Linked DNA regions of Homo sapiens: region 1 is linked to region 2. Evidence: fine-mapped expression QTL. A gene starts in region 2. The other region holds a variant in brackets. All regions are shown on one strand. Distances are between the middles of the regions.

Region 1 (10,225 bases), 38 kb before region 2:
ATTTTTCTGCCTCAGCCTCCCGAGTAGCTGGGATTATAGGCGACGCACCACCACGCCCAGATTTGTATGGAACTACAAAAGACCTCAAATAGCCAAAGTGATCTTAAGCAAAACAAACAAAAGAACAAAGATGGAGGCATCGTACTACCTGATTTTAAAACGTGTTACAAAAGTATAGTAATCAAAACTGAATGGTAATGGCACAACAATGGTAAATAAACTGATGGAACAAAATAGTGAACCCAGGTATAAATCAATGCATTTACAGTTGATTGATTGTGAGAAAGATACCAAGAACACAAAATGGGGAAAGGACAGCTCTTCAATAAATGGTGTTGAGAAAAGTAGGTATTGACATGCAGAAGAATGAAATAAGACCTTTATCTCACATCATATGTAAAAATTAATTCAAAATGGACTAAAGATTAAAACATAAGATCTGAAATGGTAAAACTACCACAAGAATACATAGGGGAAAATTTTCATGATGTTGGTCTGGGCAATGGTTTCTTGACTATGACCCCAAAAGCACAGGCAACAAAAGGAAAAACAGACAAATGAGGTTACATTACACTAAAAAGGTTCTGCATGACAAAGGAAACAATGAACAGAGTGAAGAGACAACCTACAGAATGAGGGTCAATATTCAAAAGATCCAAGATTTTGGTTAAAATCCAAAATACACAGGAACTCAAACATCTCAATAGCACACAATCAAATAATCCAAGTAAAATGGATACATGGGCGTGGGACCTGAATAGACACTTCTCAAAAGGAGACATAGAAGTGGCCAAAAAGTATATGAAAAAAATGCTCAGCATCACTAACCATCAAGTGCCAAATATCACTTCACACCTGTAAGAATGGCTATTACCAAAAAGACAAAAGGTAACAAGTGTTGATGATGGGGAGAAAAAGGAATGCTGGTACACTGTTGGTGGGAATGGAAATTAGTACAGCCATTATGGAAAACAGTATGGAGGTTCCTCAAAAAACAAAAAATAGAACAACTATATGATCTAGCAATCCCACTATTGGGTATACATCCAAAGGAAATGACGTCAGTATATTGAAGAGATATCTTCCCTCCCATATGCATTGGAGCATTATTTACAATGGTCAAGACATGGAATCAACCTACGTGTCCATGGATGGATGAAAAGTTAAAGAAAATGTGACACATAGATACAATGGAATACTATTCAGCCTTTAAAAAGAAGGGAGTTCTGTCATTTGTGTCAGCATGGATGAAGCTGGAGGATACTATGCTAAGTGAAATAAGCCAGGCACAGAAAGGCAAACACCTCATGATCTCACATATGTGGAATCAGAAAAAGTTGGTCTCATAGAGGTGGAGAGCAGAATGGTGATTACCAGGGCTTGAGTTGGATGGTGGGATGGGGAGATGTTAGTCAAAGGATACAAAATTTCAGTTAGACAGGGAGAATAAATTCAAGAGATGTATTGTGTGACATGGCGACTACAGTTATTAAAACAATGTGTTGTACAGTCCTGCCTTCTATCCACAGGGAATATATTCCATGGAACAAACTCTGCATATACTCAAGTCCCTGATATAAATTGGGATAGTATTGCATAAAACCCACGCACATATGCTTTAAATCATCTCTAGATTACTTGTAATACCTAATGCAATAGACATGCTATGTAAATAAGTGCTATACTGCATTGCTTTTTATCTGCTTTTATTGATGTATTATCATTTTTATTTCTTCCGCATATTTTTGATCTGTGGTTTGTTGCAACCATGGATACAGAACCCATAGATAAGGAAGGCTACAGAACCCACAGATAAAAAGGGCAAAGAGGGCTTATCCCAGGGCTCTGTATCCATACAGCTGAAAATTGCTGAGCAGATTTTTAAGTGTTCTTACCACGAATACATGATTAAGTATGTGAATTAGCTTGATTTAGCCATTCCACAATGCGTACATATTTCAAAACATCATGGTGTACATCATAAATACATACAATGTTTATCTGTCAATTAAAAATAAACTGATTTTTAAAAATAAGAGTGCACCTGCTGGACACTCCTCCCCCTTGAAGCTGTGCCTCTGTTGCTGTGGGGCCACTGTCTGCTGGGGAACTTCCTCCTGCCGGGCAGTGGTGGCAGAGTAAGCTAGGACCTGTGGGGACAAAGGAGTGATGGGTGTGAGTGACTTCCAGACCTCACCCCTCCCAGGCTCCATCTCACATTCCCTTCACCCCAAGTGACAAAACCCATCAGAGCTTGGACATTTTTTCCAGCTCCAAACTTTCATTCTTTCATACCTGTGTTTGTCCCTTGGCCTGTTAGGGCCAGCTATTTTCTATAAAAAAAAAAAAAAATACAGGCAAGCGCGATGGCTCAAGCTTGTAATCCCAGCAATGTGGAAGTCTGAGGCAGGTGGATCACAAGGTCAAGAGATCGAGACCATCCTGGCCAACACGGTGAAACCCTGTCTCTACTAAAAATACAAAAATTAGCTGGGTGTGGTGGCACACACCTGTAATCCCAGCTACTCAGGAGGCTGAGGCAGGAGAATAGCTTGAACCTGAGAGGCAGAGGTTGCAGTGAGCCAAGATCGCGCCATTGCACTCCAATGTGGTGACAGTGCGAGACTCCATCTCAAATAAAAAAAAAAAAGAAAAAATGAAAAGAAAAAGAAAAACACTTATGTATCCTTTTCTCATATTATAACATAAATTTACCCCAGATAATGGGAGCAAGAAGAGCTATTTTGTTTTTTTGATACAGAGTCTTGCTATGTTGCCCAGGCTGGAATGCAGTGGCTATTCACAGGTGTGATCATATCTTACTATAGGCTTGAACTCCTGGCCTGAAGTGATCCTCCTGCTTCAGTCTCCCAAGAAATGTGGATAAGAGGCACATGCCACCATGGTTGGAAAGAAAAGATTTTATAAGAATTTTAAAAAACCACACACATATGAGCCCTTCATGCAGAAATAGCATTTAATATATTTAGTTTCACCAAGTGTTTAATTGACCAATAGGTGAATTCTGTCTCTCACTCACACACACACAAATACACACAGACACACACTTAAACATACTCAGCTTTACAAATGAAGGTTATAATATATATAACCTTACAGAAAGTCAGGATATAGCATCAAACATTAAGTAATTAATTACTGCTTTACAAAGGACCTTGTCAAGCTGCTCCCACTAAATATCAAAGAGTGACAAAAAAGATGAAACAGCAATTCAGGGATTCTGGCCATGATCTCTATGTTATAAATGACAACTAGAAGACAACTGGAGAAATCGGAATAGAGTGCGGATAGATAGTGGTAATGTGTTGATGTTAATTTCCTTGTTTGTAGAAAGTACACACTAAAGAATTCAATAATAGCTTTCATCATGCCAACAGCCATTTTTTCAAATGTTTTTATTGTATAGTTTTTGTAACTTTTCTTTAAGTTGGGAGTGTTTTAAAGTAGGAAATTAATTTAAGCAAAACCAAAATGGTTACAATGAAAGCTGCTTATGTTGGGCTCAGTTCAACTGCCTGGATCTAAACAAGACAAAATGTAGCTTTCTTCCACATCAAAGCCTGACTAGCAGTTGGTGACAGTGAAGCTAACCCACTTTTCCCAAATCATTCTTTCCCGGGTTGGAGTCCCTCTAGGTTCAGGCGATGTCTGCGTCTCCTTTCTCTGCTCTCACACTCTTACTCCCTCTCATTTAATGAGGGGTTTATTAGTGTTTTTTAAAATCCTTTCAGAAGACCAACTTTTCATTTTGTCTTTTTTTTTTTTTTTTTTTTTTTTTTGGAGACAGGGTCTCCCTCTGTCCTCCATGTTGGAGCGCAGAGTGCAGTGGTGTAATCTCGGTTCACTACAACCTTTGCCTCCTCTGCCTCCCAGGCTCAAGTGGTCCTGCCACCTCAGTCCCCAAAGACAGGTGTGTGCCACAACGCCCATCTAATTTTCACATATTTTGTAGAGCTGGGGTTTCGCCATGTTGCCCAGAGTGGTTTAACTCCTGAGCTCAAGTGATCTGCCTGCCTGGGCCTCCCAAAGTACTGGGATTACAGGCGTAAGCCACCGCACACAGTTGGTTTTCTCAGTTCTTTCTGTGGTTTGTATTCTTTGATTTATGCTCCTTCCTGTTACTTTGTTTGGTTTAAATTTACACTTATATTTTATGATTGATTAATGTAGCTCCTCAGGCCATAATTTTCTTTTTCTTTTTCTTTTTTTTTTTTGAGATGGAGTCTCGCTGTCTCCCAGGCCGGAGTGCAGTGGCACAATCTCGGCTCACTGCAAGCTCCACCTCCCAGGTTCATGCTATTCTCCTGCCTCAGCCTCCCAAGTAACTGGGACTACAGGTGCCCGCCACCACGCCTGGCTAATTTTTTGTATTTTTAGTAGAGACAGGGTTTCACCGTGTTAGCCAGGATGGTCTCGATTTTCTGACCTCGTGATCCACCCTCCTCGGCCTCCCAAAGTGCTGGAATTACAGATGTGAGCCACCGTGCCCGGCCCATAATTTTCACGTTTTTTCTTTTTTTGACAGCTTTAGTGA[G/A]ACACAATTCACATAATTAATAATTATGATTATTCATATAATTCACCCATTTAAAGTCCACACTTCAGCAGTTTTTAATATACTCATAGCTATGCAATCATCACTATAATCAATTTTAGAATATTTTTATCACTCCAGAAAGGAACTACATACCCTTCAGCAGTAACTCCCCATCTCCCTAACCCCCAGTTTTTTAATACAAACATTGAAAGCTGTATATTTCACCCTGAGCACTGTTAGCTATTTCGCACCACTTTTGATGTGTTATATTGTCATTATTACTTACTTTGAAATATCTTACCTTCCCTTTTGATTTCCTGTCTGAACCACAGATTTTTAGAAGTGTGTTGTTCAATATCAAAATTTTAGAATTCTCTGTGGATATTGTTACTGATTTCCAGTTTAGTTTCATTAAGTTTAGAGATCATATTGTGTGTTTTATAGCCCAGAACCTGGTCTATCTTGGTGAAAGTATCATGAGCATAGAAAGGAATGAGTGTTCAGTGAATGTTCCACTCCTGCTCTTTAAATGTCAGTTAAATCAAGGTGGTTGATAGTGTGCAGATCGCTTGCCACTTTACTGGCATTTTCATCTAATCATGCTAGCAAGTGCAGAGAAACAGCTGAGTTAATCTCTTTTTAATTCTATTTTTGTGTCATGTGTTTTGAAGATGTATTACTAGGCATATACAATTTGTTGTTATTATACTCCTTGAAGAATTAACCCTTTTAACTACAAAGGTCCCTTTTCATCTCCCATAATATTCAATGTCCTAAAATTGTCACAGTAGGCAGCTAGTTAGGTATGAGCAGGACAGGAGAGGGGTCCCCGCTTCTGACACCAGCAGTGTTGGGCGACCATCAGGTAGTTGATAACTGTGTCTCTAAAGTAATAACTGGTTACAGCCGATGCCAGAAAAAAGCAGTTTCCTAATACATAGAAAACACTTGAAACTGATCAGCAGCTTCCCAATAAGATTTCAGGAGTGGGGAGAAGTAAGGCAAGATCCTGGAAGTAGGCCAACCTATAAAACCCCAACTCAGGCGGTCCGGCTGCGTACTGTTTCTCAAGTCACCTGCTTGGCCATCTTCCAAGTGTACTTTCCTTCTTTTCTTTCTGTTCCTTCCTTTCCTTCCTGTTCCTTCCTTTCCTTCCTGTTCTAAAGCTTTTTAATAAACTTTCACTCCTGCTCTGAAACTTGCCTCCATCTCTGCTTCTGCCTTATGCCCCTCAAACCAGTTCTTTCTTCTCAGGAGGCGAAGAGCTGAAGGTGCTGTGGACGCATACGGATTCGCCGCCTTCAACGTAGGGTAACTCGGATCTCATCCACCGCTAACAAAATCAACTTCATCTGATACTGAGATAGCCATGGCAGTTTTCTTGGCCTTACACTCTGCATGGTGTATCTTTTTCCATCTATTTACTTTCAACAGACAACATCTGTGTCTTCCTTTTAAGGCCCATCTCATATAGACAAGATATAGTTGAGTCTTGCTTTCTCAGCCCTTCCAAACATTTCTACCATTGAACTGTAGTGCTCAGTGGATTTACAGGGAGTGCAATAATTGATATAGTTGAAATAGACCTGTAAGTTTACCATTTAAGCTATGATTGTCTAGTCTAATTTTTTTACTCCTTTTCCCCCTGCACATTTTAATGTTAATTACCTTTTAGAATTCCATTTTAATTGGATAAACTGACTTTTTATGCATACCTATTTCCATGATCTATGTGCAAGTGCTATAGGGAATACAGTATACACTCAAGTGTTTACATTCTATTGAAGGTTTTTTAAAAATGGATTCATTGAGGTATAATGGGCATGAAACAAAGTGTACATTTTTGAAGCATGTAGTTTGGTAGATTGAGACGTGTGTATACATTGTGGAACTACCACCACGATAAGAAAATGACATGTCCACCACACCCCAGAATTTCTTCATTCTTCAATGTAATCCTCTCTTCCGCTTTGCTCCTATGTCCCCAGCAATAATTCTGCTTTTTGTCAGAATAGATTGGTCGAATTTTAATGAGAAATGGAATCAGATGGTAAGCATTCTGTGTGGATTCCTTCACACGACATAATTTTCTGTGTTTTTCTGTTTTTCTGTTTGTTTGGTTTTTTGTTGTTGTTGTTGTGACCGGGTTTTGCTATGTTGCCCTGGCTGGTCTTGAACTCCTGGGCTCAAGTGATCTGCCTGTCTTGGCAGGACTACAGGTGTGAGCCATCGCACCCTGCCCACCCTGGTCAATTGACTATTATGAATTAAAGGCTATTGAAAAACAACAGGTGCAAGAAGATCCTTTGACCTCTTTTGTGTTTCCTAAAAGCAGGAGATGAAAGTCCCCAGGGAAACATAGGACAATCTCCTTTTTTTTTTTTTCTGAAAGCTCTGCTTCCCAGGTTCTCACCATTCTCCTGCCTCAGCCTCTCCAGTAGCTGGGACTACAGGCACCCGCCACCACACTCCGCTAATTGTTTTGTATTTTCAGTAGAGACGGGGTTTCACTGTGTTAGCCAGGATGGTCTCGATCTCCTGACCTCGTGATCCACCTGCCTTGACCTCCCGAAGTGCTGGGATTACAGGCGTGAGCCACCGCACCCAGCTGACAATTTCCTTATTTTTAAGGATGAGAAGTCGAGGCCAAGAGGGTACTGTGCAGACCATGTTAGAATGGATCCACTCTCATCTTTTTAGCTCCTCACATAGTTACTTGCTTCTTCATGAGTTACTTGGTCTAATTCAGTAAATAAGTAACTGACTCTCACAGGTTCTTCCATGCCAGGTAAAACTTGAATTAAATAAATGTGTGTGCTTGTCTCCTGTGGACCTCTCTTAGGTGAATCAAATTCTCAGGCCCAGCTAAAAAAAAAAAAAAAAAAATCGGGTGGGGGGGCATCTAAAGGAGAGCTTCGCTCCCCTCCCTGACCCTCAATGGTGACTGTAATCAAACCACATCTTCCAGGCCAACAGTACCACATCCTATGGCCCTGCAACAGCATGGCCTCTCTCCAGCACAGCCTCTCTGGAGGAGGGGGAGGCAAGGGTAGTGAGATCTCAGGCCTCCTTCATGCTACCTCCTATTAGTTATATAATCCCTGGGTCACCTCTCCCACCACACTGCGGGCTCCAGGGAACAGGATTCACATGGGGTTCATTTGTCCTCCCAAACTCCGGCGGACTCCAGGCACAGGTGTTCTCAGAGTAAAGGGCTCACTGTTTACTTCCTGGATGAATCACTTTCCCCTCAAGCCTATGAAGTGCGCGCAGTTGTGGCCTCAGCTCAAGGCCGAAGGACAGGCTCCAAGAGCCCTGTGAACTCTGCTGAGGAACCATAAGAGCTCCCAGAGGCCAAGGGCAGGACAGAGATCAGAGAAGCAGCTGCTCAGAGAACTCTAGCCCTGAATCTCATTTTACCACTTGTAAAACAGGAAAAACAACCTACCTTCATCTCCCCGGGTTGTTAGGAAATCCACTACATGAAGATGTGCATTCTCTGGCTGGAAGCAGGATACCAGCTGCCCAACGGCAGAGGCTCGGGGCATGGCACTGTCCCCACTGTCCCCATCCCTGACCTAGAAGCTAGAGCCTCACTGCCCTGCCACTCCTGGATACACGACAGAGGACCAGAACTGGGACTGTGGCCTCTCAGTACAGCCTGGGTGAGTAGCCATCTGCAGCCACCTGGATGGAGACATTTCCTGCTCACTCTTCAAACTACAACCCGGGCCAGGCGCCTACCAGAAGGACAACTGGAAGCATGGCAGGTAAACCAGGCTGTGGCCCTGCAGTGCCATCGCTGTCCTCACTTGACGTCTGGCTCCTCTGTTCCTCCATGGCCCCTCCCCGTGGTGCTCCACCCTAGTCTTCAGAAGCTTCTGCCCCAAGCTCAGGGAGCAAGTACCAGGGTGCAGGTAGGAACAGGGGCAGCCTCTGCTGGATGGAGGACAGGTGCCTGGGGATCCAGTCCAGAGTGAGTGACACCAGCCCTGAGGATGTGATTTGTCCTCCCACACCTGGTAACACAGCCCTCTGAGGTTTACACAGGGCTGCTGAAGATTTTTACCTCCTCTTCACTTTACAGGCAGGAGCTGGGGCCACACCAGAGTCACAGAGCCAGAGGGGGAGCACGGCAGGGCCCAGCCATTCACAACCTTCAATCTCAGGAGTCCTTGACAGCCTGAGAGTCCGAGATTCTGAGCCGTTGGAACTTCTCAATTCCTACTTTGATAGAGAGAGGAATGGTGTGGAAGGACCTGGCGCACAGATTGGACCAGCCCAGCATTGACAGAGCCAGGACCTGGGGTCAGGAACTGAACTCAGCTCCAGGCTCATCTGAAGTCACCCTGACAGGCTGAGGATGGAGACCTTATCTCCATTCACAGGCATGGTGGGTGGCAGGGACTGGCCCCAACTGACCAGGGTTTTCCAAGTGCACAGCTCAGAATTCAGTCTTCCCTGCTGTCTCATCTGGATACCCTGGTCTACTCCCAGTACCAAAAAACTCCTATATCCTTGAAAATTCCTAATACCATGAGGAAACAAAAATACATAGCAATGTGATGTGTTATGTTTTACATCTTAGACTAGTAAAGAATGAAAGCTAAGTGTAGCAAAGGTGTAGGGACACAGGCACATTTGTGGACTAGGTGTGACTGTAAGCTGGGTTCAGTGGTTTTTTGGAGGAAAATTCGTGAACATTTAAAGAAACTTCTGAAGTCATTTATCCCACAGAAGGAGAAGTAGAATTCAACTTGTAAGGAGTTGCCCAATAAGCTGGTGTGCATGGATATGTGGACACACGATACATACAAGGGTATTTAGTACAATGCTGTTGGAATTAGCAAAGGCCGTCAGGATGGGATCTAACCAGCTGCCCCTAGGCGGCAACAGTGAATTAAAATGTGGCTTACCCATGCAGTAAAATACAATACCCTTGTTTAAAAGAAGATCAATCTGAATGTACTGCCATAAAACATCTAATGTGATTTGTGTTAGCTCCAAAATTTAACAAAGTGATTGTACATTTAAATGCATTTAATAAGGCAAGACTGATGGAGGGATTAAAGCCTCCTTTGGGACGCATAGAGTTCACATTCCCAAAACCGTGAAACTGATGTTGCTGGCCTTGTCTACACTGGTCATCCATGCATTCTCTCTTCAGGGCCACTGTCCTGACACAGCCATTCTTCTAGCTGCCTCAGGTAAGTCCACCCACTATAAACTATTTTAAAAGTCAGTTGTGTAATTTTTGAGAGGTGAAAATGTTACTGCTTTTCTGAATTTAGCATTAATTTGTAGAAAGACAACATGCAAACTCTCATGGTTTCTGTAACCTTGCTTTGGCCTTTTCTTTTTCTTTTTTCTTTTTTTTGTATTACATAAAGAATCTTAAAAAGGGCTGTTAGCAAAAACCTCAATCAATCTGAAAGAGACCTAGAAGTCTGCATATTTTATACATAATATGTCCTTGCACTCACACTACTACCAATCTCAGTTTCCAAAGCCAACTCACAACAACTTTACACCGTTTATGCTGAAGGAAGGGGCCAGCCCCGGTCCTGCCTATGGGATACAGAGGGGACACACGGGTGGTAGTGGAAGACATTAACCAAGGCAGCACCTTGGTTAACCGCTTCCTGCCACATTCCGGCTTCCTGCCACTTT
Region 2 (16,224 bases):
AGGTGGTTGATAGTTTGCAGATTGCTTGCCACTTTGCTAGTGTTTTCATTTGATTGTTCTATCAATTGCAGAGAAAGAGCTGATTTAATCTCATTTTCATTCCATTTTTGCTTCAAGTGTTTTTAAGCTGTATTACTAGGCATATACAATTTGTGATTATTATACTCCCTGATGAATTAACCTTTTTAACTGCAAAGGTTCTTTTTGATCTCCCATAATATTCTATGTCCTAAAATTGTTACCCTGTGTAGCTAGTCAGGTATGAGCTGGGCAGGAGAGGGCTCCCCACCGCTTCTTACACTAGGAGGGTTGAGCGAACATCAGGTGATGGTTAGGTGGTTTTTAACTGTTTCTCTAAAGTAATAACTGGTTACAGCCGATGCCAGAAAAAGGCAGTCTCCTAATACATAGAAAACAACTGAAACTGATCAGCAACTTCCTAACAAGATTTCAGGAGTGGGGAGAAGCAAGGCAAAATCCTGGAAGTATGCCTACCTATAAATCCCCAAGTCACAAGTTCAGGCTGCACACTTGGCTTCTCAAGTCACCTGCTTGGCCATCTTCTAAGTTGTACTTTCCTTCTTTTCTTTCCTTTCCTTCCTGTTCTAAAGCTTTTTAATAAACTCACTATTGCTCTAAAACTTGCCTCCATCTCTCCTTCTGCCTTATGACCCTCAGTCGAATTCTTTCTTATCAGGAGGTGAAGAGCTGAAGTTGCTGTGGGCCCGTATGGATTCGCTGCCATCAACGTAGGGTAACTCGGATCTTGTCCACTGCTAGCAAAATCAACTACGTCTGATACTGAGATAGCCACGGCAGTTTTCTTGGCCTTAGGATTTGCATGATGTATCTTTTCCCATCCACTTACTTTCAACAGACAGTATCTGTGTCTTCCTTTTAAGTCCCATCTCGTATAGACAAGATCTAGTTGAGTCTTGCTTTCTCAGCCCTTCCAACCATTTCTACCTTTGAACGGTAGTGCCCAGTGGATTTACAGTTAGTGCAATAATTGATACAGTTGAAATAGACCTGTAAGTTTACCATTTAAGCAATGATTGTCCAGTCTAATTTTTTTGCTCCTTTTTCCCCTGCACATTTTAATGTTAGTTACCTTTTAGGATTCCATTTTAATTGGATACTGCCTTTCCTTTCTTTTTTTTTTTTTTTTTTTTTTTTTTTTTTTGAGAAGGAGTCTCTCTCTGTTGCCCAGGCTGGAGTGCAGTGGCGCGATCTCGGCTCACTGCAAGCTCCGCCTCCCAAGTTCACGCCATTCTCCTGCCTCAGCCTCCCCAGCAGCTGGAAATACAATTGCCCGCCACCAGCCTGGCTAATTTTTTGTATTTTTAGTAGAGATGGGGTTTCACCGTGTTAGCCAGGATGGTCTCGATCTCCTGACCTCGTGATCTGCCCTCCTCAGCCTCCCAAAGTGCTGGGATTACAGGCGTGAGCCACCGCAACCGGCTTATTTTATTTTATTTTATTTTCTTGAGACGGAGTCTCGCTCTGTTACCAGGCTGGAGTGCAGTAGCATGATCTCGGCTCACTGCAACCGCCGCCTCCAGGGTTCAAGTGATTCTCCTACCTCAGCCTCCCAAGTAGCTGGGACTACAGGCTTGTGCCACCACACCCAGCTAATTTTTTGTATTTTTAGTAGATGGGGTTTCACCATGTTGGCCAGGATAGTCTTGATCTCTTGACCTCGTGATCCACCCACCTCAGCCTTCTAAAGTGCTGGGATTACAGGCGTGAGTTACTGCACCCAACTGGATACTGACTTTTAATGTATACATATTTCCTGATCTATGTGCAAGTGCTATAGGGAATACAGTATACACTCAAGTGTTTGTATTCTATTTGAAGTTTTTTAAAAAATGAATTTATTGGCTGGGCTCGGTGGCTCATGCCTGTAATCCCAGCACTTTGGGAGGCTGAGGCGGGCAGATCACGAGGTCAGGAGATCCAGACCATCCTGGCTAACCTGATGAAACCCCGTCTCTACTAAAAATACAAAAAAAAAAAAAATGCCGGGCATGGTGGCGGGCGCCTGTAGTCCAGCTACTCAGGAGGGTGAGGCAGGAAAATGGCATGAACCCAGGAGGCGGAGCTTGCAGTGAGCCGAGATCGCGCCACTGCACTCCAGCCTGGGCGACAGAGTGAGACTCCATCTCAAACAAAAAAAAAAAAAAAGAATTTATTGAGGTATAATGAATATAAAACAAAGTGTACATTTTTAAAATGTGTAGTTTGGTAGATTGAGATGTATGTATACACTACGAAACTATCACCACAATAAGATAATGACATGTCTACCACCCCCCAGAATGTGTTCATTCTTCAGTGTAATCCTCTCTTCTGCTTTGCTCCTATGTCCCCAGCAATGATTCTTCTGCTTTTTGTCACAATAGATTAGATTAGTTGCATTTTAATAAGAAGTGGAATCAGACGGTATGCATTCTGCTTGGATTCCTTCACATGACATGATCATTTTGAAAACCATCCCTGTGGCCATGTGCAGTAATACTGCCTTTTCATGGCTGAGTTGTGTTGCTGAATTAATTGTGTGATATTAATGTAAAGTGTAAGAGACTCGCAACAAGATGTGTCCATTCATCACCACCCAGTATTCCTAAGCCTTAACTATGCATACTTTACGAACCTCACAGCAATGTTATCATCATTGATAATACATATTTTCAAGAAACTAAGAAGAAGTAATAATCCTTTACATTTTCCCCAACTTTATATTTCTGGTGACCTTCCTTTCTTCCTTAAGATCCAGGTTTCCATTTGGTGTCAGATCTCTTCTGCCTGAAGCATTTTGTGTCCTGCAGGTCTACTAGCAATGAAGTGTCCGTGGCGTCTCCAAAATCATATTCACATTGCTAATTCTTAAAGCCACTTTATGCCCATTTGCTCCTTCTTATTTGGTAATGATCTCAGCCAAATATCAGATTATGAAAACCAGAATCCACCTTGAACTTCTTTCCTCTTCTTACCAAACCTATTGCATCACCGGCCTGCATTATCATCATCATTTCCCTCAGATCCGCCTCAGCTGCCACTTGCCTCCTTCAGGATAATGCAACCTGACCCTCACCCTAACCACTAGGACCCATCCCAAATGCTGCCCAGGCCATGTCTGAGGTCACCCACCTAATCCACTCTGCATTGGGCAAACAATGATCTCTGAAGTGCTGATCTGATGGGCGATGTCTCCGGTGAAAACTTGACAATGGTCCTGGTGACTCAGGATGTGGGTGATCCTCTGCATGCTATTCAGATCCTCTGTTCTGTCCTCAGCCTGCCTGCCACACTCCCCACCTCTCACGTTTAACACACTCTATGAGCAGGCTGAGAACGCAACATCTGCATTAGTGCAGCTTCCTAGAATCCACGTTACTCATTCATTCACTCATGGAAGAAATATAGGCGTCTGGCGACCACACATACAAGGAGCCGTGGAGTATCGGGAACACAGCATGGCCCTTCCTTTCCTTAGCACAGTTTCCATTCACAGGAGCTGAGGCACAGCCATCATTAACCCCAAAGTCCATGAACTTGTGAAGAGTCTGGAGGGGCTGCTCAGGCAGAGGTGACAAGTACCATAAGTGGCAGAGACATTAGTGGACATAGAGGGGAAAGTCCACACAGACAGAATCCCAGACAAATAGTAAGTCAAAGTAATGGGGGAGGGGAGTAAAAACAAGTGAGGTTGGGACGAGGCTGTGCAGGATGCGGGCCTCTGATTGAGGGAGAAGGGGTGTGTGGCCAGAGATGTGTGGCTGTGTCAGTCCATAGAATTTTGTCAGACTTGAACTTTTCCTGGTGTGTGTGAGTGAGTGTGTGTGTGTGAGAGAGAGAGAGAGAGAGAGAGCGCAGCATGCCAGAGGCATGGTGGAGAGAGAAGGAGAATGAGAAGGGAGGAGGGTGGAGGCTTGCTCAGGTCCTCTCCTGCAAGGCTCTGCAGATCCAGGCTTCTCCCCAGATGAGTCATTAACTGGGGGTTTCCTGGTCATGCACATCCCCCACTGGTGATGCAATAGGTAGGTGGTTGCAAAGCCCAGTGTGGCCCTCACCCTCCCTCAAGCCAAGCAGGCTCCTCTTTCCTCTGCAGGGCACACACACCCTTAAAGCTGCCAGTTGACCCTGAACTGAGCAATCACTCAGAAGACCAGACATCAACTCAGACTTGTTCTCTCAGTCTGTGGCCTGGGATCTACTTCTGAGTTTTGTGGAGTTTCTTTTTATCCCTGTACAAGACCAGGGCCAGCCACTAAAGAGCTGCAGGAGTCCGGGGAAGTCACTTCCCTTCCTCTCTAAACTTCACGTTTCTCTCTCCTGAAAACAGGAAGTGGCATTAAATGAGCTCTCAGAGGCCTCCCAGCAGTGACCCAGAATGAGGTGAGCAGCAAATTCTCCCTTGGGAAAGGCAGCAGAAGCCAGTTGGGCAGTGGGTGCTGCTCCCCTGAGGTTGGCTCACCCATCCCCCAGCCCCCCACCCCAGGAATAGCTGTGTGACCTTCAGCAAGTTACTGAGTTGATCTGTGTCTCACGTAAGAGAACCAACTTAATTATAGTTCCGGCACAGTCAGGTTGCTGTCAGAATTAAATGTGTGAATTTGTATGAAGGGATCTGAATAGAGCCTGACTTATGGGAAGTGCTGTATTTCAGCGCACACTCTGAATAGCATAATCATTACTAAAAGAATTTTTTTTTTGAGACGGGGTCTCACTCTGTCTCCCAGGCTGGAGTGCGGTGGTGTGAACACGGCTCACTACAGCCTCAACCTTCCAGGCTCAGGTGATCCTCCCACATCAGCCTCCTAAACAGCTGGGACTACAGGTGCAGGCCACTGCACCAGGCTAATTTTCTGTGGGTTTTGTTGTTGTTATTGTTTGTAGAGATGGGTTTTGCTATGTTTCCCAGGCTGGTCTTGAACTCCTGGGCTCAAGTGATCTGCCCGCCTTGGCAGGACTACAGGTGTGAGCCATTGCACCCTGCCTACCCTGGCCCATTGACTATTATGAATTAAAGGCTATTGAAAAACAGCAGGTGCATCGCTGGCAAAAGTATACTTGTGTAACGAACTTGCACATTCTGCGCATGTATTTCAGAACTTAAAGTAAAAATAAAATAATAAAGTAGGCCGGGCGTGGTGGCTCACGCCTGTAATCCCAGCACTTTGGGAGGCCGAGGCAGGTGGATCACAAGGTCAGGAGATAGAGACCAGCCTGGCTAACATGGTGAAACCCTGTCTCTACTAAAAATACAAAATTTAGCCGGGTGTGGTGGCGGGCACCTGTAGTCCCAGCTACTTGGGAGGCTGAGGCAGGAGAATGGCGTGAACCCAGGAGGCGGAGCTTGCAGTGAGCTAAGATCATGCCACTGCACTCCAGACTGGGCGACACAGCAAGACTCTGTCTCCAAAAAATTAAAAAAAAAATAATAAAGTATTCAGGGATAAAGAGAGAAAAATAAATTTAGATTGTATACATATGTAAAATATATTTTAAAAGGTAAGCTTGTCTTTTTTATTCCTTAAAGGAGCAGATATTAAAAAAAAAAGAATAGAATAACTCATCTTTTTAGCCTCCACATATTTACTTGCTTCTTCCCAAGTTACTTGGTCTAATTCAGTATATAAGTAACTGACTCTCACTGCTTTTTCTGTGCCATGTAAAACTTGCATTGTATTAATTTGTGTGCTTTTCTCCTGTGGACCTGTCTTATGTCAACTTAATTCTCAGGCCCAGCCAAAAAAAAAATACCCTTAAAGGGAGCTTAGCTTGCCTCCATGACCCTCAATGGTGGCTGTAATCAAACCACATCTTCCAGGCAAACAATACCACATCCTATGGCCTTGCAATGGCATGGCCTCCCTCCAGCACAGCCTCTCTGGAGGAGGGGGAGGCAAGGGTGGTGAGATCTCAGGCCTCCCTCATGCTACCTCCTATTAGTTATATGACCCCTGGTGTCACCTCTCCCACCACACTGTAGGCTCCAGGGAGTAGGATTCACATGGGGTTCATTTGTCCTCCCTGCCTTCAGCAGACTCCAGGCACAGGTGTTCCCAGAGTAAAGGGCTCACTGTCTGCTTCCTGGGTGAATCATTCTCCCCGCAAACCCATGAGGTGAGTGCAGTCGTGGCTTCAGCTCACCGCCTGACAGGCTCCAGGCTGTAGCACAGGGAGGGCCCTGTGGACTCTGCTGAGGAACCATACGAGCTCCCAGAGGCCAAGTGCAGGACAGAGAATAGAGAAGCAGCTGCTCAGAGAACTCTAGCCCTGTAGAGGTGCAAATATGGCTGCTATTATACAGAAGGTGAGGCCAAAAATGCTGGAGACACTGCTCCTGAATCTCAGTTTTGCCACTTGTAAAACAGGGAAAACAACCTACTCTCATGTCCCCAGGTTGTTAGGAAAATCCACTACATGAAGATGTGCAGTCTCTGGCTGGGAGCAGGACACCAGCTGCCCAACAGCACAGGCTCAGGGCATGGCACTGTCTCCACTGTCCCCATCCCCAACCTGGAAGCTAGAGCCTCGCTGCCCTGCCACTTCTGGATGCAGGACAGAGAACCGGAACTGGGACTGTGGTCTCTCAGTAGAGGCTGTGAACAGCCATCTGTGGCCACACGGATTGAGACCTTTCCTGCTCACTCTTCAAACTGGGGCACCGGCTGGGTGCCCAACAGAAAGACAATTGGAAGAGTGGCAGGTAAACCAGGCTGTGGCCCTGCAGTGCCATCACCGTCCTCATTTGAATTCTGGCTCGTCTGTTCCTCTACGGCCCCTCCGCATGGCGCTCCACCCCAGTCTTCAGAAATTTCTGCCTCAAGCTCAGGGAGCTGGTACTGAGGTACAGGTAGGAGAAGGTGCAGCCTCTGCTGAGTGGAGGACATGTGCCCTGGGGATCCAGAGTCTAGAGTGACTGACACCAGCCCTGCAATTTGTCCTCCTAGACCTGTTAACAGAGCCTGCAGAAGTTTACACAGGGCTGCTGAAGATTTTTATCCCCTCATTTTACAGGAAGGAGCTGGGGCCATACCAGAGTCAGAGCTGGACCGGGAGCACGGCAGGGCCCAGCCATCCACAGCCTCCAATTTCAGTACTCTCTAACAACCTGAGAGCCTGAGCCTTCGGATCTTCTTGATTCCTACTTTGATAAAGAGAGGGATGGGGTTGGAAGGACCTGGCATAGAGATTGGACCAGTCCGGCATTGACAGAGCCAGGACCTGGGGTCCGGAACTGAGCTCAGCTCCAGGCTCATCTGAAGTCACCCTGACAGCCTGAGGATGGAGACCTTATTTCCATTAACAGGCATGGCGGTTGGCAGGGACTGGCCCCAGCTGAGCACGGTTTTCCAAGTACACAGCTGGGAATTAAGTCTTCTCTGCCGCCCTCCCCTGTAGTCTTGCCTGGATCCCCCCAGTCATCTACTCCCAGTACCAAAAACTCCTGTATTCTTGAAAATCCGTAGTACTGAGAGGTGACAGCTTGCTGGCAGTCCTCAACAGCCCTCGCTCGCTCTCGGCGCCTCCTCTGCCTGGGCTCCCACTTTGGCGGCACTTGAGGAGCCCTTCAGCCCACCGCTGCACTGTGGGAGCCCTTTTCTGGGCTGGCCAAGGCTGGAGCCCGCTCCCTCAGCTTGCACGGAGGTGTGGAGGGAGAGGCGCGAGCGGGAACCGGGGCTGCGCGCGCGGCACTTGCGGGCCAGCTGGAGTTCCGGGTGGGCGTGGGCTCGGCGGGCCCTGCACTCGGAGCAGCCGGCCGGCCCTGCCGGCCCCGGGCAATGAGGGGTTTAGCACCCGGGCCAGCGGCTGCGGAGGGTGTACTGGGTCCCCCAGCAGTGCCGGCCCACTGGCGCTGCGCTTGATTTCTCGCCGGGCCTTAGCTGCCTTCCCGACGGGCAGGGCTCGGGACCGCCATGCCTGAGCCTCTCACCCCCTCCGTGGGCTCCTGTGCAGCCGGAGCCTCCCCGACGAGCACCTCCCCCTGCTCCAGGGCGCCCAGTCCCATCGACCACCCAAGGGCTGAGGAGTGCGGGCGCACGGCGCGGGAGCACGGCGCGGGACTGGCAGGCAGCTCCACCTGCAACCCCGGTGCGGGATCCACTGGGTGACGACACCTGGGCTCCTGAGTCTGGTGGGGACGTGGAGAACCTTTATGTTTAGCTAAGGGATTGTAAATACACCAATTGGCACTGTGTATCTAGCTCAAGTTTTGTAAACACACCAATCAGCACCGTGTGTCTAGCTCAGGGTTTGTGAATGCACCAATTGACACTCTGTATCTAGCTAGTCTGGTGGGGCCTTGGAGAACCTTTGTGTCCACACTCTGTATCTAGCTAATCTGGTGGGGAAGTGGAGAACATTTGTGTCTAGCTCAGGGATTGTAAACCACCAATCAGCGCCCTGTCAAAACAGACCACTCCGCTCTACCAATCAGCAGGGTGTGGGTGGGGCCAGATAAGAGAATAAAAGCAGGCTGCCAGAGCCAGCAGTGGTAACACTGTGGAAGCTTCCTTCTTTCCCTCTGCAATAAATCTTGCTACTGCTCACTCTTTGGGTCCACACTGCCTTTATGAGCTGTAACACTCACCTTGAAGGTCTGCAGCTTCACTCTTGAAGCCAGCGAGACCACGAGCCCACCAGGAGGAAAGAACAACTCCAGACCCACTGCCTTAAGAGCTGTAACACTCACTGGGAAGGTCTGCAGCTTCACTCCTGAGCCAGTGAGACCACGAACCCACCAGAAGGAAGAAACTCCGAACACATCCGAACATCAGAAGGAACAAACTCCAGACACGCCGCCTTTAAGAACTGTAACACTCACCGCGAGGGTCCGAGGCTTCATTCTTGAAGGCAGTGAGACCAAGAACCCACCAATTCCGGACACAGTACCATGAAGGAATGAAAATACATAACAATGTGATGTATCATGTTTTATTTCCTAGACTAGTGACAAATGAAAGCTAAGTGTAGCAAGGGTGCAGGGACACAGGCACATTTGTGGACTAGGTGTGAGTGTAAGCTGGGTTCGATGGTCTTTTGGCCAACATAGTGAACCCCTGTGTCTACTAAAAATACAAAAATTAGCCAGGCGTGGTGGTGCAGGCCTGTAGTCCCAGCTACATGGGAGGCTGAGGTGGGAGTATCGCTTGAACCTGGGAGACGGAAGTTGCAGTGAGCCGGGATCACACCACCGCTCACCAATCTGAGCCACAGAGAGACTGTCTCAAAAAATAAACCACAAGGAAGGGAGGTAGGGGGAGGGGGAGGGAGGGAGGAAAGAGAAAGAGAGAAAGGAAGGAAAGAGAAAGCAGGAAGGACGGAAAGAAGACGAAAGAACGAAAGAAAACGAAAGAAAAAAGGAAAGAAGAGAGAAGGAGAGAACAGAAGGGGCAGGTGCCCCTGGGAAGGGGAGAAGATCAAGACGCGCCTGGAAAGCGGACTCTGAACCTCAAGACCCTGTTCACAGCCAAGCGCGCGACCCCGGGAGGCGTCAACTCCCCAAGTGCCTCCCTCAACTCATTTCCCCCAAGTTTCGGTGCCTGTCCTGGCGCGGACAGGACCCAGAAACAAACCACAGCCCGGGGCGCAGCCGCCAGGGCGAAGGTTAGTTCCGGTCCCTTCCCCTCCCCTCCCCACTTGGACGCGCTTGCGGAGGATTGCGTTGACGAGACTCTTATTTATTGTCACCAACCTGTGGTGGAATTTGCAGTTGCACATTGGATCTGATTCGCCCCGCCCCGAATGACGCCTGCCCGGAGGCAGTGAAAGTACAGCCGCGCCGCCCCAAGTCAGCCTGGACACATAAATCAGCACGCGGCCGGAGAACCCCGCAATCTCTGCGCCCACAAAATACACCGACGATGCCCGATCTACTTTAAGGGCTGAAACCCACGGGCCTGAGAGACTATAAGAGCGTTCCCTACCGCCATGGAACAACGGGGACAGAACGCCCCGGCCGCTTCGGGGGCCCGGAAAAGGCACGGCCCAGGACCCAGGGAGGCGCGGGGAGCCAGGCCTGGGCCCCGGGTCCCCAAGACCCTTGTGCTCGTTGTCGCCGCGGTCCTGCTGTTGGTGAGTCCCCGCCGCGGTCCCTGGCTGGGGAAGAGCGTGCCTGGCGCCTGGAGAGGGCAGGGAGAGAGGGGGACACGGCGGGGGTGCGTGGCCCGGGTCGCCTGCGGCCGGGCATGTCCGGGCAAGACGCACCAGTCGTCGGAGTCGGGGGAAGAGATGGGTCCCCGGGTTGGGCAGGAGCGACCTGGGCCGCCAGGGAACAGAGCGCGCGCTCCACTTGGTGTAAATTCCCGAATCCAGTGGGGGAGGGCGACAAGGAGGGAATTCCCGAGTAAGCTGCGTGAAGCCACGGAGAGGTCGTCGGACTTTGATTTTGTTTTCTTTCCTTACTTTCTGTTTCTTTCTCTTTTTCTCTTTCTTCCTTTCTTTCCCTCCCTTCCTTCCTCGCTCAGTTCCTGCCTTAATTTCTTTTTCTTTTGCGCCTTCGAATGAATTCCTAAAGGCGCTCATTGCAGATCGCTTTGAACCTGCGGCCGGCGAAGAACTCCCCTGTGGTCGCTGCGGCCCAGTGGTTCCGTTCCGTGCGCGGGAGTCGTCGCGGGCGCAGCTGGAGAGGCCCCTTCCCCTCCTTAGCGGCTGCGCCCCTACGCGTGCGGGGCCGCTCATCGCCAATGCCATTGTTTGGGGTTCCTTGGGAAAACGAGATTTAGGAGAAGGGAGTTGTGGCACTTGGGGCCTGACCTGCTTGATAATAGCAGCTGCATTTTGGCCTGGGAAGAGCCTTTCTTGCCACCTCTTGGCAAGTATCCGTGATAATGGGGAAGGGACAAAGAGTCGGCTTTGTAGGGAACAGCATGGTGTGCTCAGCGCCTGGAACTGCGCTTGGGGCCAGGAGAGGTTCTGAATCATCACATTTTACAGAGGAAGAGACCGCAGCTCAGAGTGGGGAAGTGTGTGGGCCTAGACCTAACTCAAGACTGTACAGAGGGGCTGGAAGGGAGAGGAGGAACAGTGAAAGGAAGGTCAAGAGAATGCTGGTGTTGACCTAGAAGAATGTCAGTGTGAAGCATTGGAGTTTCATGGGATATTGTTACACACCTCATGTTTTCACTGTTTCCGCCCCACACCACAGTATGTCCTTGGTCTCACCTCTGAGTGGAGGGAGGACCTAACTGTCCTAGTGAGGAGAGTGTACAGGGGCCTCTGCCTCCCCCTCCTGCTGTGGTTTCTGTGGGCCTAGGTCCCCAGGGCATCTTGCCTCTCTTTGGGTGGTGGATCTTTGGTCTCTGGCTGCTTTTAAAGATTTTTCTTAGCACTGGTTTGCAGTGATTTGGTTTGTTTGCTCTGTTGTGGGGTTTTTTTTTTATCTCTATAAAGAATTTTTTGGATTTTTGGCTTTAGACTTTCATGTTCTTTCTACTTGGAAGATTTTTCTGTAAAGAAAGCCACAACTGGGTTGTGTTGAATTTCTTGGATTTGGGGTTTTAGAGTTTATGTTCTCCTTGGAGACTTTTCTGTAAAGAAAGCCACAACAGCCGGGTCTGGTAGCTCATGCCTGTAATCCCAGCACTTTGGGAGGCCGAGGCGGGCAGATCACATGAGGTCAGGGATTCGAGACCAGCCTGACCAACATGGTGAAACCCCGTCTCTACTAAAAATACAAAATTAGCTGGGTGTGGTGGTGGGCACCTGCAATCCCAGCTACTTGGGAGGTTGAGGCAGGAGAATCACTTGAACCTGGGAGGCAGAAGTTGCAGTGAGCAGAGATGGCGCCACTGCACTCCAGCCTGGGAGACAAGAGCAAGACTCCAACTCAAAAAAAAGAAAGAAAGAAAGCCACAACAGAGTTATGTTGAATTTCTTGGATTTGGGGTTTTAGAGTTTATGTTTTTGTTTGTTTGTTTGTTTGTTTTGAGATGGAGTCTTGCCTCTGTCGCCTAGGCTGGAGTGCAGTGGTGGGATCTCAGCTCACTGCAACCTCTGCCTCCTGGGTTCACGCCATTCTCCTGCCTCAGCATCCCGTGTAGCTGGGACTACAGGCATGCACCACCACGCCCAGCGAACTTTTTGTATTTTTAGTAGAGACGGGGTTTCACCGTGTTAGCCAGGATGGTCTGGCTCGTGATCTGCCCGCCTCAGCCTCCCAAAATGCTGGGATTACAGGGGTGAGCCACCACGCCCAGCCGAGTTTATGTTCTACTTGGAAGATTTTCAGCCATTATTTCTTCAAATACTCTGTCTCTTCTGGTGACTGAGATCTTATTATATTTACGTTAGAATGTTAGATTTTGTATCAGAGCTAACTTAGTATCTGTTCTTTTTTTTCCCCCATCATTTTCTATGTTTCACTTTGGACATTTCCCTGTGAGGGCTCTTCAAGTTCATTGATCTGCTTCTGCAGAATCTAACCTGCTGTTAATCTCATCTACTGTATATCAGATATATATTTTTTGAACTTTAGAAGTTCTCTTTTGGCATTTTTAATATCTTCCATCTATTTCCTGGTCATCTTTGTGTTTTTCTTTTTTGAGACAGGGTCTTACTCTGTCACCCAGGCTGGAGTGCAGTGGCACAGTCAGAGTTCACTGCAGCCTCAACCTCTTGGGCTCAAGTGATCCTCCCACCTCGGCCTCCCAAGTAGCTGGGACCACAGGCACTTGCAACCACACCTGGCTAATTTTTGTATTTTTAGTAGAGACGGGGTTTCACCATGTTGCCCAGGCTGGTCTCAAACTCCTGCGCTCAAGGAATCCTCCCACCTTGTCCTCCCAAAGTATTGGGATTACAGGCCTGAGCCACCGTGCGCAACCTATGATTTTGGTGGTGGTGTTTTTTGTTTTTCTGTTTTTTAAATATTCTTGAGTATATTTGTAAGCTTTAGATGACCTGTTTTAAGTTATTTAATCTATCAACACCATTATATCTGTTATTACGGCCACTGTTTCTGTTGATTACATTTTTTTTCCTGCCCATAGGGACTTTTTTTTTCATGCATAGTAATTTCTTATTGCTTGACATTGTGAATTTTGCTTTCTTGGGTACCGAACATCACTGTGTTCTTTCAAAGTCTATTGGGCATTATTCTGGTCACAGAAAACTGAGGATCAGTTTGCTCCTCTGATACTAGCTTTTATCTACATATAACTATATACCTTGTGTTCAGTTGCCTTATTCAGGGGCTCATTTAGTTAACTACTAAAGTTATAGTGGTTGACTTCTGATGGTAACTCGCCAGCACCCTGGCATGCGTTCTGTCCACTGTGGGAAGGGGAACATGCAGATCTCCCAGCCCTGAGTGGTCCACAATCTAGTCTCTCCTTCCCTGGGTGGCTTCTTCTCAGGCACCTAGAGTCAGTCTCAGCAGACACTGGACATGTCTTCTGCAAGGATCCAGAGTCCTCCAGGCAGCTGCTTCTCCCAGTCTCTGCCCTGCACTTGGCCTCTGGGAGTTCCTGCCTGTGGTTCTCAACAGAGACTACAGAGCTCTACAGGGTCCTCTGCCCCTGCTGTAGCTGGAGGCTGTCCTTACGCAGTGAGCTGAGGCCACAGCTAGTCTCACTGCATGTGCTTGGCGGCGGGGACAGGAGTGATTCATTCATCAGGTAGAGGAGGAACCCTTTACTCTGGGAAAATCTGTGCCTGGGTTGGGGAAGGACAAATGAGCCCTGTGTGAATACTGACTACTCCCTGGAGCCCACAGTCTGGTGGAGCAGGTGACAGCAGGGACCTAAATAACTATCAGGAAGCATGAGGTCCCACCACTGTCACCTCCCCCACCTCCAGAGTGGCTGTGCTGGCTCCAGAGATGTCATCCCTCCATATTTGACTGACAGAGGGAGGCTGTGCAGTCCCAAGGCTCCAGGTCATGGTAGTTTGGCCAGGATAATATGGTTTGCTTAAAATCAACATTGAGGGTAATGATCGTACTAATCAGAGCATGTGTTTAAAGTTCTGTGTTTTAAGCACTTTCCATACATATTAACACTTTCAGTTCACACAACAACCTATGCAGGAACTGTGATTATCCTGGGCAGTTTTAAGGATGTGGGTGACTCAGAGAGGAAAGAAGAGGTTACTCGGGTTAATTTTTGACGAGAAATATTAGCAGGTTTTATGCTCAAACTTGGTGTAAAGCAAGGAGCCTGAATCACAGGTGGGTGAGTCACAAGACAGGGAAACCCCGCCAATGGCTCATGTCCGGGAGGAGGCAGGGTCCCTAGAATTCAATGGGACAAGAACTGAAATAAGCCAAACCCCTGACCTCCCTTCTTCTTGTTTTCCTTCTCTCTCTTAACCATGCCCATGGACACCCCCATGAGCCCATTTCTGTGGCCCAACACAGCTGTGCATCTCTGGCCACACGCCCATTCTCCCTCAATCAGAGAGGCCCACGGACGGCACAGCCTCGTCCTGCACAGCAGAAAGAGTGAATGGTGATGAATGGATCTATATTATTTCAACTCTCCTACATTTTGTAATCATATTACAATATTAATTCAGCAGTACCTCTCTTGTTTTTACTCCCCTCCCCCATTACACTGGATTCCTGTCTGTCTGGGATTCTGTCTGTGTGCACTCTTTCCTCTATGTCCACTACTGTCCCTGCCACCGATGGCATTTGTCACCTCTGCCTGGGCAGCCCCTCCAGACTCTTTGCAAGTTCATGGACTTTGGGGTTAATGATGGCTGTGCCTCAGCTCCTGTGAATGGAAACTGTGCTAAGGAAAGGAAGGGCCGTGCCATGTTCCCGATACTCCACGGCTCCTTGCATATGCGGTCGCCAGGCGCCTACATGCCTTCCATGAATGAATGAATGAGTAACGTGGATTCTAGGAAGCTGCACTAACCCAGACGTTGTGTCCTCAGCCTGCTCATAGAGTGTGTTAAACGTGAGAGGTGGGGAGTGTGGCAGGCAGGCTGAGGACAGAACAGAGGATCTGAATAGAGTACGGAGGATCACCCAAGTCCAGAGTCACCAAGGCCATTGTCAAGTTTTCCCCGGGGACATCCCTCATCAGATCCACCCATTAAAGATCATTGTTCACCCAGTGGAGAGTGGACTAGGTGGGTGCACTCAGGTGTGGCCTGGACAGCATTCGGGATGGGTCCTAGTGGTTAGGGTGAGGGTCAGGTTGCATTATCGTGAAGGAGGCAAGTGGCAGCTGAGGCAGATCTGAGGGAAATGATGATAACGCAGGCCGGTGATGCAATGGGTTTGGTAAGAAGAGGAAAGAGGTTTGTGGTGGATTCTAGTGTTTCTAATCTGAGACTTGGGTGAGGTCATTACCAAATAAGAAAGAGTAAATGGGCATAAATGGCTTTAAGAATTAGGAACCTGAATGTGCTATTGGAGACAGTATGGGCACGTCATTGCTCATAGACCTGCAGTACACAAAATGCTAAAAGATTTCAATCTGAATAGAGATGAAATGAAATGGAAACATGGATTTTTTTTTTTTTTTTTGAGACAGTTTCACTGTTGCTGCCCAGGCTGGAGTGCAATGGCGCAATCTCGGCTCACTGCAACCTCTGCCTCCTGGGTTCAAGCGATTCTCCTGCCTCAGCCTCCTGAACAGCTGGGATTACAGGCGCTTGCCACCACACCCAGCTAATTTTTGTATTTTTAGTAGAGACCGGGTTTCACCATGTTGGCCAGGCCAGTCTCAAACTACTGACCTCAGGAGATCCACCGCCTTGGCCTCCCAAAGTGCTGGGATTACAGGCATGAGCCACCTTGCCTGGCTGGGAACATGGATCTTAAGGAAAGAAGGAAGATCATCAGGAATAGAAATATGAATGCACATATAAAGAATGATTATTTCCTCTTAATTTCTTGAAAATATTCACTATCAAGTAATATAACACTTTGTAGGGTTTGTAACATATGAACATGCCTGAGACAACTATAGCAGAAAGAATGAGTAGTGGAGATGAATCAATCTGTATTATTTCAAGTCTCCTACATTTTATAATATTACCATATTAATTCTGCCATACAACTCAGTAATGAAAAGGAATGGAGTACTGATGCATATGAAAATATGACCGAATTTCAAAATAATTATGCTGAGTTAAAGAAACCAGACAGAAAAGCATATATAGTATCTGATTCCATCTATGATATTTATAGCCAGAAATGGTTTAATTAAAAAAGAAGAAGGATCTTAAATCAACGAGCTAAGTTTACAAATGTAGGAA

Evidence for each region. PIP is the estimated chance that this variant, and not a neighbour inherited with it, causes the effect.
Region 1: its variant is fine-mapped to the expression of TNFRSF10B in whole blood (INTERVAL, PIP above 0.99).

What each region holds. Positions count from the first base shown.
Region 1 is chr8:23,103,645-23,113,869 of GRCh38, reverse strand. TNFRSF10C (TNF receptor superfamily member 10c) reads right to left here. Exons shown (of 5, transcript NM_003841.5): 2 at 2,045-2,150. Among named protein-coding and RNA genes, the nearest start is that of TNFRSF10C, 5.8 kb to the right of the region's middle. RefSeq lists an enhancer at 10,075-10,225. The variant G/A (reference allele first, on the strand shown) is at 4,556.
Region 2 is chr8:23,062,613-23,078,836 of GRCh38, reverse strand. It overlaps TNFRSF10B (TNF receptor superfamily member 10b), which reads left to right and starts at 9,806. Exons shown (of 9, transcript NM_003842.5): 1 at 9,806-10,086. The coding sequence starts at 9,943. It also overlaps the pseudogene TNFRSF10B-AS1. RefSeq lists enhancers at 7,486-7,985, 8,307-8,601, 9,383-9,552, 9,573-9,622, 10,163-10,422 and 2 more, a cis regulatory region at 9,816-9,821 and promoters at 9,276-9,946, 8,714-12,427.